Homo sapiens: one gene and its partner. The protein of the gene in region 2 purifies or fractionates together with the protein of the main gene of each other region. This does not show direct contact. Each region holds a gene or a part of one and is shown on either strand. Other genes may lie near its edges.

Evidence for each region. The genes of interacting proteins can lie anywhere in the genome.
Region 1: the proteins of MECOM (region 2) and NUP205 purify together in Homo sapiens (affinity purification with mass spectrometry, with the first as the bait; 2 studies listed by BioGRID). This does not show direct contact.

What each region holds. Positions count from the first base shown.
Region 1 is NC_000007.14:135,574,291-135,582,621, reverse strand, and holds part of NUP205 (nuclear pore complex protein Nup205), read right to left. Parts: intron 6,353-8,331; coding exon 6,208-6,352; intron 5,654-6,207; coding exon 5,494-5,653; intron 4,827-5,493; coding exon 4,598-4,826; intron 3,872-4,597; coding exon 3,707-3,871; exon of another isoform or gene 3,696-3,706; intron 1-3,695. UniProt on the Homo sapiens protein: Plays a role in the nuclear pore complex (NPC) assembly and/or maintenance. May anchor NUP62 and other nucleoporins, but not NUP153 and TPR, to the NPC.
Region 2 is NC_000003.12:169,085,836-169,094,166, forward strand, and holds part of MECOM (histone-lysine N-methyltransferase MECOM), read right to left. Parts: intron 7,268-8,331; coding exon 7,123-7,267; intron 4,402-7,122; coding exon 4,165-4,401; intron 3,349-4,164; coding exon 3,165-3,348; intron 1-3,164.

The DNA of each region.
Region 1 (8,331 bases), on a different chromosome or scaffold from region 2:
GTCCCACCTACTTGGGAGGCTGAAGTGGAAGGATCATGTGAGCCCTGGAGGTTGAGGCCACTGAGCCATGGTCACACCACTGCACTCCAGCCTGGGCAACAGGGAAGCCACTATCTCAAACAAACAAAAACGTGCTTATCTACCCATATTATACAAAATCCTTGAGAATAAAATATTGTCTTAATTCTTTGGTATGACTAGTAATAACAATTACTAAAATTACTAATTATTAAATATTTTCAGTAACAGTAACAAATTATTTCAAACCTTTACTTGAATTCAAAAACACCAGAATTAAAAGAGAATCAACTCAAAGATTACGTCTTTTATTTTTTTTGAAACAGAGTCTTACTCTGCTGCCCAGGCTGGAGTGCAGTGGTGCGATCTTGACTCACTGCAACTTCTGCCTCCCAGTTTCAGCCATCCTCCAGCCTCAGCCTCCTGAGAAGGTAGGATGACAAGCATGTGCCACCACACCCAGTTAATTTTTGTATTTTTAGCAGAGTCAAGGTTTCGCCCTGTTGGCCAGGCTGGTCTTGAACTCCTGACATCAAGTGATCTGACTACCTCAGCCTCCCAAAGCACTGACATTACAGGCATGAGCCACTATGCCCAGCCAAAAATTACTTCTTGAAGACCATTTAGGCAATAAGGCATCATTGTCTTAATATAAATTGAGTTTCAATGCCTAAAAACAGTATGCTAAAATTCTGTAAAGCTTAGTGAAATTACAAAAATGCTTGGTTTTTTTGTTGATTTTTTTTTTTTGGAAACAGAGTTTCACTCTGTCACCCAGGCTAAAGTGCAGTGGCATGATCTCAGCTCACTGCAACCTCTGCCCACTAGGTTCAAGCAATTCTCCTGCCTCAGTCTCCCAAGCAGCTGGGATTACAGGCACGCGCCACCATGCTTGGCTAATTTTTTGTGTTTTTAGTGGAGATGGGCTTTTACCACGTTCGCCAGTCTGGTCTTGAACTCCTGACCTCAAGCGATCCACCTGCCTCATCCTCCCAAAGTGCTGGGATTACAGGCGTGAGTCACCACACCCGGCCGATGCTTGTTTTTTTAATTTTTTTTGAGATGTGATCTCACTCTGTCACCCAGGCTGGAGTGCAGTGGAGCAATTTCAGCTCACTACAGCCTCTCTCCTGGGCTCAAGTGATCCTCCTGCCTCAGCCTCCTGCGTAGCTGGGACTACAGCCAAGGGCATGTCACCACACTGGGCTAATTTTTAATTTTTTGAAGAGATGAGGTATCACTACATTGCCCAGGTTTGTCATGAACTCCTGGGCTCAAGCAATCCTCCCACCTTGGCCTCCCAAAATGCTGGGATTATAGGCATGAGGCACTGCACCTGGCTTCATGCCTTTTATAGAATAATATAATAAAAACATTTGATAAAAGTTTCAGAAGTCTATGAAGAGAACAGAAACCAATTTTTCAAATTGGAGATCTTCGTTAAAACTTGTCTGGATTATTTCAAGAAGTGACCATTTCTGCAAAATAACACAAGCTAGTCATTTTTTCTAACAATTTTTAAAATGCAAATTAACAGAAAAATTTTTATAGTTTAAAAATTCTAATTATAATACCCCTAACTATTAAAGCTTATAAAAGGATATGAGCATATAAAATCAAAGAGATTAAGTAGCCAAAGATCTGGGACTTGAAACTAGGGCTGTGATTCCTAACCTATTTTTACTATTATTCTACAGCAAACTATAGCATATTCTATTAAACCTTTCAAAACTAGTGCAGTGGTATGGGCAATTATAGCATAAGATTGTGACCATATTACATAATATTATAATAACTATCTATGTATAACTATATTATATAGTTAATATATTAACTATCACACCTGGGCATGGTGGCTCGCGCCTGTAATCCCAGCACTTTGGGAGGCCAAGGCAGGCAGATTGCCTGAGCTCCGGAGTTCGAGACCAGCCTAGGCAACCCGGTGAAACCCTGTCTCTACTAAAATACAAAAACTTAGCTGGGTGTGGCGGCGTGCGACTATAGTCCCAGGTACTCCGGAGGCTGAGGCAGAATTGCTTGAACCCAGGAGGCAGAGGTTGCAGTGACCTGAGATCATGCCACTGCATTCCAGTCTGGGCAACAGAACGAGACTCCATCTCCAAAATAAAAAAAGAAGATATTAACTATCACATAGCCACTTCAAAGGTTAAAGGGTAACTTTATGTCAGAAAAGTAGTGAAATAAGACTTATAAATGATGAGGGTACGTACAGGTGAGAAACAGAATTTGTACGGGAATGTAAAAGTCTAATTCGCTATCAGCATTTAGATATATAGATGACAGACAGATAGAAATTAACTGGCCAAAGAAAGACTCCTAACACAAAAAAAGCTTTCTGCAAACACCTTGGGAACAGCATGACACTAGTGAAAACAAAATGTTCTGGAATTACACGATTGATAAGATACTAGAATCTGTTGATACTTTAGGATTAGAAAACTGACATAAATTGTAAACTTGAATAAAGCCTTTCTAGATTTACCATAAAAAGACAATTCTTTGGGCTTCGTGTTCCATGTATGGTTCTCATTCTGTTAGAATAAACCCCTACTAATATGACAATTAAATAATGTAAATGTAAATAGCAGAATAATATATGCTACAGTGAGTTAACAGGTTGTTAAAAGTCAGTATTCTGGTCAGGCGCGGTGGCTCACACCTGTAAACCCAACACTCTGGGAGGCCAAAGCAAGTGGATCACCTGAGCTCAGGAGTTCGAGACCAGCCCAGCCAACATGGTGAAACCCTGTTTCTACTAAAAATACAAAAGATTAGCCGGGTGTGGTGGCGTGTGCCTGTAGTCCAATTACTTAAGAAGCTGAGGCAGGAGAATCACTTGAACCCAGTAGGTGGAGGTTGCAGTGAGCCGGGATCGAGCCACTGCACTCCAGCCTGGGCCACAAAAAAGAAAAGTCGGGATTCCACATCTGTTCTTGACTGATCCAAATATCTCCTTTTTAATACACTGTATGGAAAAATAACTGTTTTTAATTTGACACAATGTGAAAAACTAGTTTGTGAACAAATCAAGAAGTAAAATATATAAAAATAAAAGGAATAGTATATTTTAATTTTAAAAAACATTTAAGGCCGGACGGGGTGGCTCACGTGTTGCAATCCCAGCACTTTGGGAGGCCAAGGCAGTCGGATCACCTGAGGTCGGGAGTTCAAGACCAGCCTGACCAACATGGAGAAACCCCATTTCTACTAAAAATACACAATTAGCCAGGTGTGGTGGCGCATGCCTGTAATCCCAGCTACTTGGGAGGCTGAGGCAGGAGAATCGCTTGAACCCGGGGGGCAGAGGTTGCAGTGAGCCGAGACTGTGCCATTGCACTCCAGCCTGGGCAACAAGAGCAAAACTCCATCTCAAAAAAAAAAAAAATTAATGTGACACTGTCATTCCAAATTTTAAACTCATACCCTGAAGGTAAAAGAGCATTGTCAGTGGCTCCAAGAATGGGAAATAGTATTTCATATGATATTTTTGAGAGACAAGGAGAAAAAAGTCTGTATTTCACTACTACACTAAAGGTTTCATTTAATACAACTCTGGATATCTTCCTATGCTTATGCTTATGTATGTCAAAGATAATACTCCTTCCAAAAATGTCATTAAGTGCTAACATGCTGTTTCTCATAACAAAATTACCTACAATCAATTCACCTGTCACATCAGGTAGCTGGGATATTCCCCTCAATGCCAGCGCCCAGGCAAGTCTAACAGTGGCTTGGAGCCCAGGCAGTTTCCAAAGCTGTGAGTCCTGAAGACGAGAGTGAATTGTTGCAATGTACTGTTTTTCTGTCAACAGTGGAAGTTGATGAATCATATCTGAAAACACAAAAATAGACCACTTTACCGATCACCAGATAAATTCTCACTTCTGATACACAGGAATAATATCCAAAAGTCAGAAAATCTGAGCATTCTCACAGAAGAATAATGACCAATTAACATTAATTTCTACATCCCAAAAGGTACACTACTGTTGATTGTACACATACTAAAAACAAAAAAAGAAAATGACAATAATCCTAAATTTCAATTTCACTATTTTCAGTCATTTTTATAAGTGTACTACAAATAAACAAGAAAAAAGTTAGACACTCATTTTTTCTGCACATAAATTCTAAAATAGAAATCATGCTATCTAAAGATCACAAAAATTTTATTTACTTCACAGAAAACACAGATCAAAGATTACATTACTGAAATGACAGTCACTGTCTCAGAATGTTTTAATAAAAAGTTTGAAAATGTAAATGAATGGTAAAGAAACAAGCAATTAAGTAAATTAGGCATGTGCAATCATGAACATGTATAATATATGCTTTAATACTTTCCATTCCAAATCCCCCCAAAAAACAGAAATAATTAACAGGACTGCAGCTGTTTTTTAAATGTGATCTTATATATAAATATTCAAATATGAACGGACTGCAAACACAGGAACAGAGCAGACTATTTTAGTAGCTAAAATATCACCCTTTTTAAATGTTATCCCCACAATTTTAAATCTGATTTTTTTAATGTAGGAAAATGTATAAAACTCAATACCATCTCGTTCCTCTGTGCTTTGCTCTATAAAACTGATATCAAAACAGTATAGAAGCGCCATAAGAAGAGCCAGATTCACTGCATCCAGTGAGCCATTAGCCTCAACTGTCACTCTTTCCAAATGTCCAATGAGGAGGAGAGTGTCTTCTTTGCCTAAAGGTGACTGGCAAGCCCAGGCAAAAAGGCTTTCTGCAAGAGACTGCCTGCACTCCTTAATGAGATCAGAAACCTAGAAATAAAAACATGACTATCAGTATAAATAAATTACAGTGAAGCCTGGTCTTATTCCAAAGTACAAACTACCTTTTACAAAGGCTAATAAAAAAACCTATCAAAATCCACAAGTGATCCTAAGACGTCACCTCTGGAATTCTGAACAAACCCTATTGTTTATTCCTTATCCTTAAGTTCCTTAAGAAATTGGGATGACCAATTTCTTGTTCATTTCATAAAAAGAGCTAGAATGGCACATAAATGACTATACCGAAGCTGAAACAACTGCAAGTCAATTTTATGGACACAGCTGACTACAAACTTTAATATACATTACGAGCTGACTACAATTAACAATTTATTGTATACTGTACTGTCAAACAGTAGTACAGTGAATTTTGAATGTTCCCAACACAAAGAAATAATAAACGTTTGAGGTGATGGATATGCTAATTATGATTTATTACATATCATACATATGTATCAAAATACCACACTGTACCCTATACATATGTACAGTTTTGTGTCAATGAAAAATAATAAAAGCAAAAAAAAAGAAAAGTGGCAATCAGGCATGGTATCAGCTACATAATTCATCTTGAAAAAATGAACATTCTAATTGTCATGTTTCTGCCTCTGAGATTTGACAGACAACTCATGAATTGATTTCATTGAACCCTTGCCTCTTTGCGATGTTTTTCACTGCCCAAACCTCTCTCTCGCTGTAGTTTCTCAAACTCATTATTCACATCAATCTGTGACACCAGCGTAAGAACTTTATAAGTCAATCCTTGCTCCATCAGCTCATCTGTAAAGCGTGTTGTCATGGAAGCCAGCTCTGGACTGTAATGAAAAGAAATCAATAAACTACGTTAAACAATATTGTTTATGCTTCTTCATAATAATAGGTATAGCAAACGCTCTTTTTTTGAGACAGGGCCTTGCTCTGTCACCCAGGCTGGAGTGCAGTGGCGTGATCATGGCTCACTGCAGCCTTGACGTCCCAGGCTCAGGTCTTTCTCCCACCTCAGCCTCCCAGGTAGCTGGGACTGCAGGTGCATGCCATCATGCCCAGTTAATTATTCTATTTTTTGTAGAGATGGGATTTCATCATGTTGCCCAGGCTGATCTAAAACTCCTGAGCTCAAGACTGTAATCTGTAATCCCAGCACTTTGTAATCCAAAAATAATTTGGGCCACTGCACCTCGGTCCAAATTATTTTTTATTTATAAACACAATAAAACAGGTTTAAATTGTTATATCTGTCTTGGCAGAATAAGGGAGTATATTACTCAGCTTATGTTACATATTGCTCAGATTGTATATAATAAGGGAAATATTGTCATACTTCAAGTAATTTCAAATTAACCCCTGAAATCCCAAGAAGTAAAAAGACCTGAGTTCTAGGGTCCATGTCTTTCCCCGTCTAGACTGTATCAAGGCTTTCAAGGAATTCGCAATGCATCGCTTTCCATCCCAGTACAGAAGAACAGCTACTAATCCTCTGGTAAGGCCAGGAAAATGTGGCTGTTGATGCTCTCCTAAAAAAGGAAGTTGAGAAATAATATTGTTAATAAACACGTATGTGTTTAGGAGGAGACAAAAATCAATATAACAATGTTCAGTTCAAAGAATCACAGTAGCTCAGGGCTTAAGGGGCCCTGGGGTCCTCTACTACAAACATCCATCCACTGTCTAACTTCTTGCTCAACATATTCGAGGGCCATCCAACTTATCCCTAAACACCAGCAGGGACATGGAATTCACCATTTTCCAAACTCTCAATTTCTAACTCTCACACTTACCTGTGATTTCTACATACTGGGTGAGAATCTTTTGGTCTCACTGTTGTCCACTAAATTTAATTTTATTCAATGCCCATTTTACTATCTCATATGGAATCTTTCAAATATTTCTAAGTTTCTTCCCTCGGAATCTTCTCTGAATAAACAACCTTTTTATAATTCAAGTTCAGTCACCTTTTAACTACTCTCCTTTGAATGAGTTCTACCTTTTTTTTTGAGATGGAGTCTCACTCTGTCACCTAGGCTGGAGTGCAGTGGCGTGATCTCACTGCAACCTCTGCCGCCTAGGTTCAAGCAATTCTCCTGCCTTAGCCTCCTGAGTAGTTAGGATTACAGGCACTTGCCATAGCACCCAGCTAATTTTTGTATTTTTAGTAGCGATGGCATTTCACCATGTTGACCACGCTGGTCTTGAACTCCTGACCTCGTGATCCACCTGCCTTGGCCTCCCAAAGTGGTGGGATTACAGGTGTGAGCCACCACGCCTGGCTAAGTTTCACTTTTTTTTTAAGAGTACTTTGCCTATAGTTTCAGTTTCATTTCCTAAAGCTTTCTTTTCCCCTTACTGCAACTACTCCTCCACTCTACTCCTTTCTGTTCCCCAAATTCATCACCTTGCTTCACCCTCTTGCACAGGCAATTTCTTCTGCCTGGATGCCCTTCATCCTCCCAAATAACCACCTATTCCACCTGATGTATGCTTACTCATTTTGCAACATCTACCTTAAACTTCATGATGTTGTTAAGAGTTCTCTGTACAATCAAGGTCCATCTAATACCATCTCTAAATCTCTGGACCATCTCTAAATCTTGCACAAAACTGCATTAATTGTACTTAATTGTGTCAAAATATTTGTTTCCACATCATTCTCAATTATTAGAATATGAGCGTATTTACACTAGTTGAGATTTTATTCATCTTTATATCACTGGAGTGATATAATTAACACCATGCCTGGCACATGGTAGGTATAGAAGAAATGTTTGTTAAATGAAAGTTCCGAGTTAAACTCAAAACTCAAGCATGTCTAGTGAACATCCCCCTCATTCTCAATATCATACTTCTTTTAGTGCAGGCTTAGGTCAAAAAGGATTTTGGTAGCCATATATTATCTTTAGACATATTAAACTTTTGTTCAACTAACATGCCCATATTTTCTTCAAATGGCTCCTCCATTATAATTAAAACAAACTGCTTATAGTATAGAAATTTTTCTCTCTTTTCTCTACACAGCAGCCAGAGAAATAATTTCAGAGTTAGAATGAATTATGTAATGTCTCTGCTTAAAGCCCTCATCAACAACTTTCTATTGCAATTAGAATAAAATCCAAATACCTTTCATTATCATGCAAAATCAAACATGCTCTGATTCCTGCTGTATCTGCATCTTCCTTTGCTCTCCCTCTCATTTATGATGCTCTAGCCACAATGATCTTTTTATCCTTAAACACGCCTTTATTCCCACCTCAAGCACTGGCTGCTTGCTCTCCCCGGAAAAGCCTTACCCAATAGGTCTGGGTGGCTGGCACCTTCTCATCATTTGGGTCTCAAGGCAAATGACACCATCTTAGAGAGGCCTTCTCTACGGATCCTACTTAGAGTTGCACTAGCCAGCCTCCACCTCTCTATATCTCACTGCTTTATTTTATTTTCTTCCTAGTACTCTGTATTATTGAAATCATCTTATTTTTTACCTACTCATGCATTATCTGAA
Region 2 (8,331 bases):
ACTGCCAAGCAAAATATTCAAATGAAATGTTTGGTCTTGACTTGTAAGTGAACTTTTCACTGTTGATTTGCTATTGTTGGTCTCATCCATTGCTAAACTTGCTTGTCAAAATGCTGCTGAAGTGGAATCATTAAAGTCCTGCCAAAGACATTCCACTGTCTGTAAACAAAGACAAAATGCCTCTGTTGTTAGGCAGAATTTCATCTCTGGGAGTCATGCTGAGACATGTGGCCAGTCTGTGGTTTCTTCCGTAATCATTGCATTTAGTTAGAAAATTTACCCTTGTAGGCTGATTTTTGATTTGCTGGGTCATCGCTCTAAATGTACACATTTGACTTTTATGTATGCAATTTGCCTTTTGGACTTCTACAATATCTCATGATCCATTTAACAAATATTTCTTAAGCATCTACTCTATGCCAGGCTCTGTGATAGATCCTAAGAAATTAAGAATAAATAATATAGAGTACTTATCTTTGGCAGAGTTTAAAGTATGGGTTAAGTGAGCATTCAACCTAAATTATCTATTCTGATTATGTACCTACTTTTAGAGAACAAGATAAAGAGTACTCTGAAAGAGTTAAAACAAATTCTGATATTTGGGAAGATAAAAAGGAGTACAAAGAAAATTTTGGAATTTAAATTTTAATCCTGCCTTTAAACCTGCCTCTACTCACCTAGCTGTGTGATCTTGAGCAAGTTGCTTAACCTTTTAAGCTTTACTTTCCTCCTATAAAACAGATGATAGTAATAACAGTATTGGCCTCCAAGAGTTGTGGAGGAATCACATGCACTAACTTACATAAAGTGTTTAGCTCAGTGTGCCTGACTGAGGTAATACATAAATAGTACCTATTACCATGAAATTAATTTTTACCGGATAGAGTTTCTTGAGGGAGAGCACATGCAAAATGCAGCTACTATTGTACTGGTCAACTATTTTCAATTCAATCACTATAAAAATTACAGACTATAAAAATTACAGAATAAATATATGAATGCTTTGACTAAAGCATCTGAGCCTTTAGATTCTAGAAAATGGCAAAACAGCATATCTGCCTTTTGGTAATCAAAGGAAATAAACATTTTCATATATAAGGATCAGTGCCCAGCATATAGCTGGTAGTTAATAAATGAACGAATGAATGATATTATGAAATAAAGTGAATTTGCAAAAGGGCCTGACCATTTTCAAACTAATCTATATAACATGATCAAGTAACAAGAAAAATATGACTTAGGATTGCAAAATGCTAGTGTTTCTTATAACAGTAACAGTCCAGCTGGGTTGGGACTTTATGTCAAAATGCTGGTACTAAAATGTATTATAATTATATCCCTTATCTGTAGGTTTTCAGGCCCTTTTGCTTTCTGTCACTTCTGGCAGTTTCTGGAGTGTTTAGGTATTATATCTTACAATAAATAAGAAGCATTTTTGGTGGACTAATTAAAAGAAATTTAAAAAGAAAAAACCATGGCCAGGTGCAATGGGTCACACCTATACAAATCCCAGTAATTTGGGAGGCTGAGGTGGGAGGATTGCTTGAGCTCAGGAATTTGAGACCAGCCTGGGCAACATAGTGAAACCCCATCTCTACACAAAATTGAAAAATTAGCCTGGCATAGTGGTGAGTGTCAATAGTCCCGGTTATCCAGATGCCTGAGGTGGGAGGATCACTTGAGCCCAGCAAGTCGAGGCTATAGTGAGCCGTGATTGCACCACTGCACTCCAGTCTTAGCAGCTGAGTGAGACCCTGTCTCAAAAACAAAGAAACAAGTAACAAAAAACCAAAAACCTTGATACTCAAGTTATCTCTAATCAACAAGGATGGAAGAATGGGAAATCAAGGGTTAAAAAAAAATACTAGCCACCCCTTATGGATGTCTCTAAGTAAAAATGAAATGTCTACTCTAGCTAGTTTACCTTTAATGTTAAAAACTGGAAACTTCATTTTTATCCCCATTGAATAAAAATCCACTTACCCCTTTTACAATGAAGAAATGGTACCTATAGTCTTTAAGTGATGTTCTTAAGTTCATGGAGGTAGGCTCTAGGAGCCTCTGTAGATGGTGGCTGCTTTAACTTCAGTTGAGAAAGAACATTTATTTTACCTATTACCATACATAATATCTCAGAACTTTTTACTAAATTGAATATTATTTAATGATTTGTATTATCCCATTGACACAATGTTTTTCCCAACTTCCTTGGGATATTATTACATTTGCTGTTAAGACAAACCCAGACATCTTACCCAAATAGAAAATCATTTCCAAATGTACAAACTAATATGGTCACATTGCAGGTCAGGCCACATACAAAATGAACTAATGGATCAGGCAATTAGACCACAGTGCCCAATAAATATGGTAATAGGAAGTTTCTTTATTTTTAATTGACCTGAATGAACAATCCGGTTGAGTGTGGATGTCAAACAAAAAAGTACCGACTTCCTTTATTTTGTAACAAAAACACTGAGGCTCTTTTAATTGCTATTTATGGACCCTTAAATAGATTTATTTTTAGTTACCATAGTGCTGATACAATGTTGTAGAGCCTAATAAATTTGAGTACCATTCATTCACTCATTCATTTGTTGAATTTAAATTGACAGGTTTTATTTCCAAATCTGCCAGTAAGTTGGTGTAGACCTTTGGCAACTCACTTCCTTTCTGATCCTCATTTTACTATTAAATTACAACATGAGATGACTTGCTAATTAACTACACCTAACAATTTACTAGACATAGAAGGGGACAAAAAATAGAATTCACTTTTCAGAAAAATCTTAAAATATAATTACATTGACAAAAGTATAGACACGGAAAATGACTCTGAGGTAATACATAAATATTTGTAAACAAACATGATGAACTAACTGTACAAAAGTAAGAGAATTGCAAAGTCAAGGAAAGATAAGTGTAGGATGGGGCTTGTCATAAAATTTCTATACAGAATGCAGCTAAATTAATTGCTTTCTTGCTTAACTATTTTGGATTTGGTCATAAATACAGTAAAGATATGAACATTTTTAGAAAGGCATCTGACCCCATTTGGATTCTAAAATATTTCAAAGATAGAATATTTGCTTTTTGGTAATCAAAGGAAATGTACGTTTCATGCATAATGTAACCATGATGCTGTACTATGGGAAAATCTGTACCTGCGATTTGGACTTTCTGTGTAACGGCTGCTTAAGTTCCTCTGGCACATGGGAAGTACTAAAAGAAGACAGCTCAGCTTCAGAATATTGATTATCTTCCATTTTCCTCATTTTGAGGCTATCTGTGAAGTGCCTTATATGATCTAGAGCAGAAAGTCCACTTTTATATTCTTCCTCTTTATACCTAAAATGAACCAACGAAAAACACAGAAATTTTCTTTTCATTTGTTATCTAATCAAATCACTTTCATTTGAATCTATCTATACAACTGACAAACTTCATATTGTATCTGCAAGGTAAAGTAGCATGCATCAATTATTGGGTTTTTATAAATACTTACAAACATCATGTCTTAAAAATATATTTCTGTTAAGATTTTTAGTAACTAAAGCCAAGCATATATTTGAGATAAAGAGTTAAAGTCAGTGACACATTAGTCAGTAATAGGCAGAGACAGAATTCATATATTCATTATTTCCATTTAAAGTAAAGCTAATTATGACAATATTTAGTCAACATCCATCATGAAAATATAATAGTCCCATCAATTTAACTGTTTGGTTATTTCTTTTCATTTAAAAAGTTATCATCTATATAGATCACATATATATCTACTGAAGTGAAGTTTATCTCAATTATACTTAACTGATGACCATGCCAGATTATTGTATAATTAGATAACGTCAAAATCTCTATTTTTCTTTGAGTTTTATAGGTAGAGTCTAACAATAAATGATTGTGTACTTATGTAATTTTCATTTTATCTTTCCCACCTCAGGTTAATCAGAGTTGCACCAAACCTGATGTATTTATATGCTTGTGGATTATGTTGATAGCCACCTTATTTTCATCTATTTAAATCTGATCCACCATGTATCCCTTACTAATTCAAGTTTAATTTTTGTGATTTATAACTCACAAATTGCTTATCACAGGAGGAATTGCAACCGTACATGGATCTACTCTAGCTTAGTTTCTAAAGTCACCCAAGGTACTCACCTCACTGGGGATGTCTTGCAACTCATCTCCAGGGCACTGGTTTCTTCATAGTCATCCTCAGGGTTTCCTTCATGTAAATTACTTGTCACTGGTTCCTTTCCTGTTTTTCCAGTAATATCATTGTCTTCATCCTCCTCATCTAACAACACCTCATCTTCAACTTCTTCATCATCCAGCAAGTCTGAATTTTGACTGGTCACCAAAGCCTTTTCATCTTTAAAATGACTGCCATTCATTCTTTCAAAAGCATTAAAAAAAAAGTCCAATTGTTGGTTTCATTTTTAAAATTGTAATTTGTTCCTTTATTATGTCTTCCCAACAACAGTTTAGATTTTCAACACTTAACATCGGAAATGTTTTATTGTTTATGCTCTACGTCAACCATGAAAAAATAATGTGACTTCACAAATGGGAAGATAAAGAAAAAAATAATTGTATGATTGTTCAGATTATAAATGAAGCCTCTGGCAGAACCCGAAAAACAATCTTGGTCTCCCATTTCTTATCAGACTTTGCTTGATAATTGATATTGCTATATATATCATATAAAAAGGCACATAAGTATGTTCTCAGCACAATTTACCTAATTGCCATGTAAGTACCCACCATTTAAAATAATAGATTTCTGGAAAATTCATATCACTCATGGGCCGTAGCTACAATACACATGCCTAAAGTGACTCTAAAAGTCCAAAGACAATGTTAAAGTAGTTACCAAGAAACAACTGGTATTTACTGATACTAGATGACATTTGTGGTACATTCCACCTAACCACTCTACCCATATTTGGAAGTAATTGACAGCTCACTTATTTGTACTATTTTCAAATTATTTTTTACAGTCTGAATGTGAAATAGTTCCTTGTTTCTCAGGAAAACGCCAGGGTGGAAAAAGCTCAGGTATTACAATGTACCCCCATCACTTTCCCACATAACAAAAATGAGTATAATTTAATATTCAGATTTCCCAGGATTAAAAAATAAATAAAACAATCTTGGATGTGACAAACACACATAGTAAAAATCCATTTGACCAGAAAAAGTCATATCATTATTAAGCTTTTAATAAAAACAATCGCTTAACCTCTTTTATCAAAGAATGGTGAAAACATCTTTTGCACAGACATAAATTAGTTTCCAAACACACTGCCAACTTGCTTGCATGAGTGGATTAAAATTTTTATTTAAAAAAAAGAAAGAAAAAGTAAAAGAACAAAAAGAGTGCATGGATGAAAATCAAAAGTAACAAAAGCCAACATAATTAAGAAAATCTATTTGTTAATTAAGTTTTCAAATGTGGCAATTTACAGAGAATAAATTATTCATCAAAAGTAGCCTGGTAGGAGTTCAGGGGAAAAACTTAGATGACTCAACCTTCTTATTTCTGTGCTGTTTAGACATGCTGAAGCCAGATGTTGCAACTATACAGGCTCACAAATCGCCAATTAAAGGCTAGAAAATTTGAATAGGCATCTCAGAACCCAAATGGTGTGTTTTGTTCAACAGTTCTTATTTGCATCAAGTAAATATCATTATCAAAGTATAAGATCGTCACTGTTTCTTGCTTGTTCTTGCTACTTTGTCCTTCTGATCATCTGCTTCCTCTCTCCCTTTCACAAACAGACAGACAGACACGCACACACACACACAAATGGGCAAGTAAAGGGAAAGGTACATCCAACTGCACACTGGTGTAGTTATCAGACTTCTCAGAGACTGGAAGGGTCTTTTTTCTTGTTTTTCTTTGATACACTTTTATACAAGTTGAAAAACAGAAGTGGTCATTTTTTTTGTTATTTTAGTAAAAAATGTTTATTTGATGTTTGCCTTGAAAAAATTACATAAAATAATTAATTTTGACTTTTGATAACATCAAAAACAGAGGACACTAATCCAATAATACTTGTATGATGAAAAATAATGGAACTTTTAACTAATTTCATGTTATTTTGAAATTTACAATGTAGCATCTGAATTTAATAGGTCACTATATAGTCGTGTTCAGAAAAGTCTACTTCTCAACAATAGATATTTAATTATAGCTTACAGATAAGAAAAATTAAATCCAGTAGTTTTGGTGAAATAGTGTTTCATTAACTTCATATGCAATGTGAAGTGCTGGGTAACTGTTAAGTATTATCATTAACAGCATTAAAAGCTTTTTTAAATGAATTAAGCTATTCATGCTTAATGTTGGTGATGATAAAAGGGAGCCAGTGCATCAGGGCAGTAAAAACAAGGATGTTCATACCCACTGAAACAAACAGACCAGAATTAAATGAGTAGTCACTTAAGAGGACATAAAGTAGCAATAGAATCTTAAGAAGACTATAAAAGCTTCTATGTAAAATATATTTGGGGGAAACTCCATGGGTATTTCATATATAAATGCATACATACATATGTACTATAATATGTATATTACATATATACAGAATATACATATATGTATTTATGTATAATACAGGTATATAGAATCATATATTACCTGTAATATATATAATTTATGATGTATAATAGTAGCCACTATTGATCAGTGATTCAACTGAATCCCTGTGACGGCTTTCTCTTCTACTTCTGAAATTTTGATAACAGATTCTATTCAGCTATCAGATAGCTAAATCCTGGTAAAATTATGGGCTCTGGAACCAGAGAGCTCAGGTTGAATCCCATTGATTACTTATGTGACCTCTGACACAATGGTTTAAGCTTCAATGTCTCCATTCCTTCACTGCTAAAATTATAGTGGCTATCTCATAGGGTTATGATGAAATTAAATTAATTAACACATGTAAAATGCTTGGAAGCATTTAATGTGGTATTTAATATGTACTAAATATATACCAGTCTTTGGTGACTGAAGTAATAGTAGTGCCACAAAAGTGAGCATAGCAAGTATATTTTAAAACATGTTCATTTCAGTCGTCACAGAGTTTAAAAAGTAAAAGACAGCTTTACCTCTCCTCCACATTCCTGGGAGATTGGCTGCCATGGTTGCTGTTCCCAATGAAATTTCGAATTTCTGTGAAGTAAGCATCTTCTTTGTCATCCAGAATCGCACCTGTACTTTCCAGTTCAGAATGAGGCGACGATGTTGCTGTACCTGTGTGGAGCAGAAAGCCTTTTATGACAAAGATTATTGTTTATCTAGCAACTTATTTGGAAACTCACTCCTTATGAATTTGATCAGTGCTGTTTCTTAAAACATGCCCTATGAATATTAATAATAATAACTTTAGAAAGTCAAAGTCTCCCCAGTTTACCATAATACACATGCCCATGACGGTCCTTTGGGAATATATTGAACCACTGAAATCATGAAGTACAGTCTCGCAAAGAAGGTGCTTCTCTCACTAGCTTTTCCTTACCTCTATTGTGACATGAGAATATTTGTATTCACATAATGAGAATTTAGAGTGAGACAAATTATGAACAAGTTTTAAATAGATTCTGCCAAGAGACACTCTATATGAAGTCCTGGTTGCAGTCAACATGCCTTTTTATTTATTTATTTATTTTTTGGCTACTATGCTAAAGCATATAACAAAATACAGTTTAAAGGCACACTGAAAATTCTGCATCCTGGTTTGCTGGGCGAAGCTGTGAGTTGACTCAGAACACTCCAGTCCAGGGGTTGGTGCAGTATTAAAAGGACAATATTAGATATGCTGATTACAGGATGATCTTCCCCTTCCTTGCCTATGCACTGCAAGACTCACAATACCCGTATCACTGGATTGGTGTAAGGCTTACATAAACTTAAACCACTTTTACACTTAAGCACTTTATATGTGGTTGAGCTTTACACCAACATTAGCTTCCTGTTGTTTATCTTGCCTACAAAGTATCTGTAATATAATAGTTCATCACAATAGTCTATATGACAAAAACAGGAGGTTAGAACATCCCCTCACCTAAAAGAGGTTACAATCTTGGTCAAAAAGTATTAACTTTGACATGTTACATGTTTAACCTTTTTTCTTAAAATAACTTTGATAAGAAAATTATAGTTGTATGCTATAAGGGTACACACAGTTAGAGTGGCCAGTTTTGCACATTGGATTATACTTCTCTACCTAAAATCTAATATTTTAAAACTATGATCATTAAATTGCTGACTTTGAGGGAGACGAACAGTATATACTTTTAAGTACTAATCAGACAAGA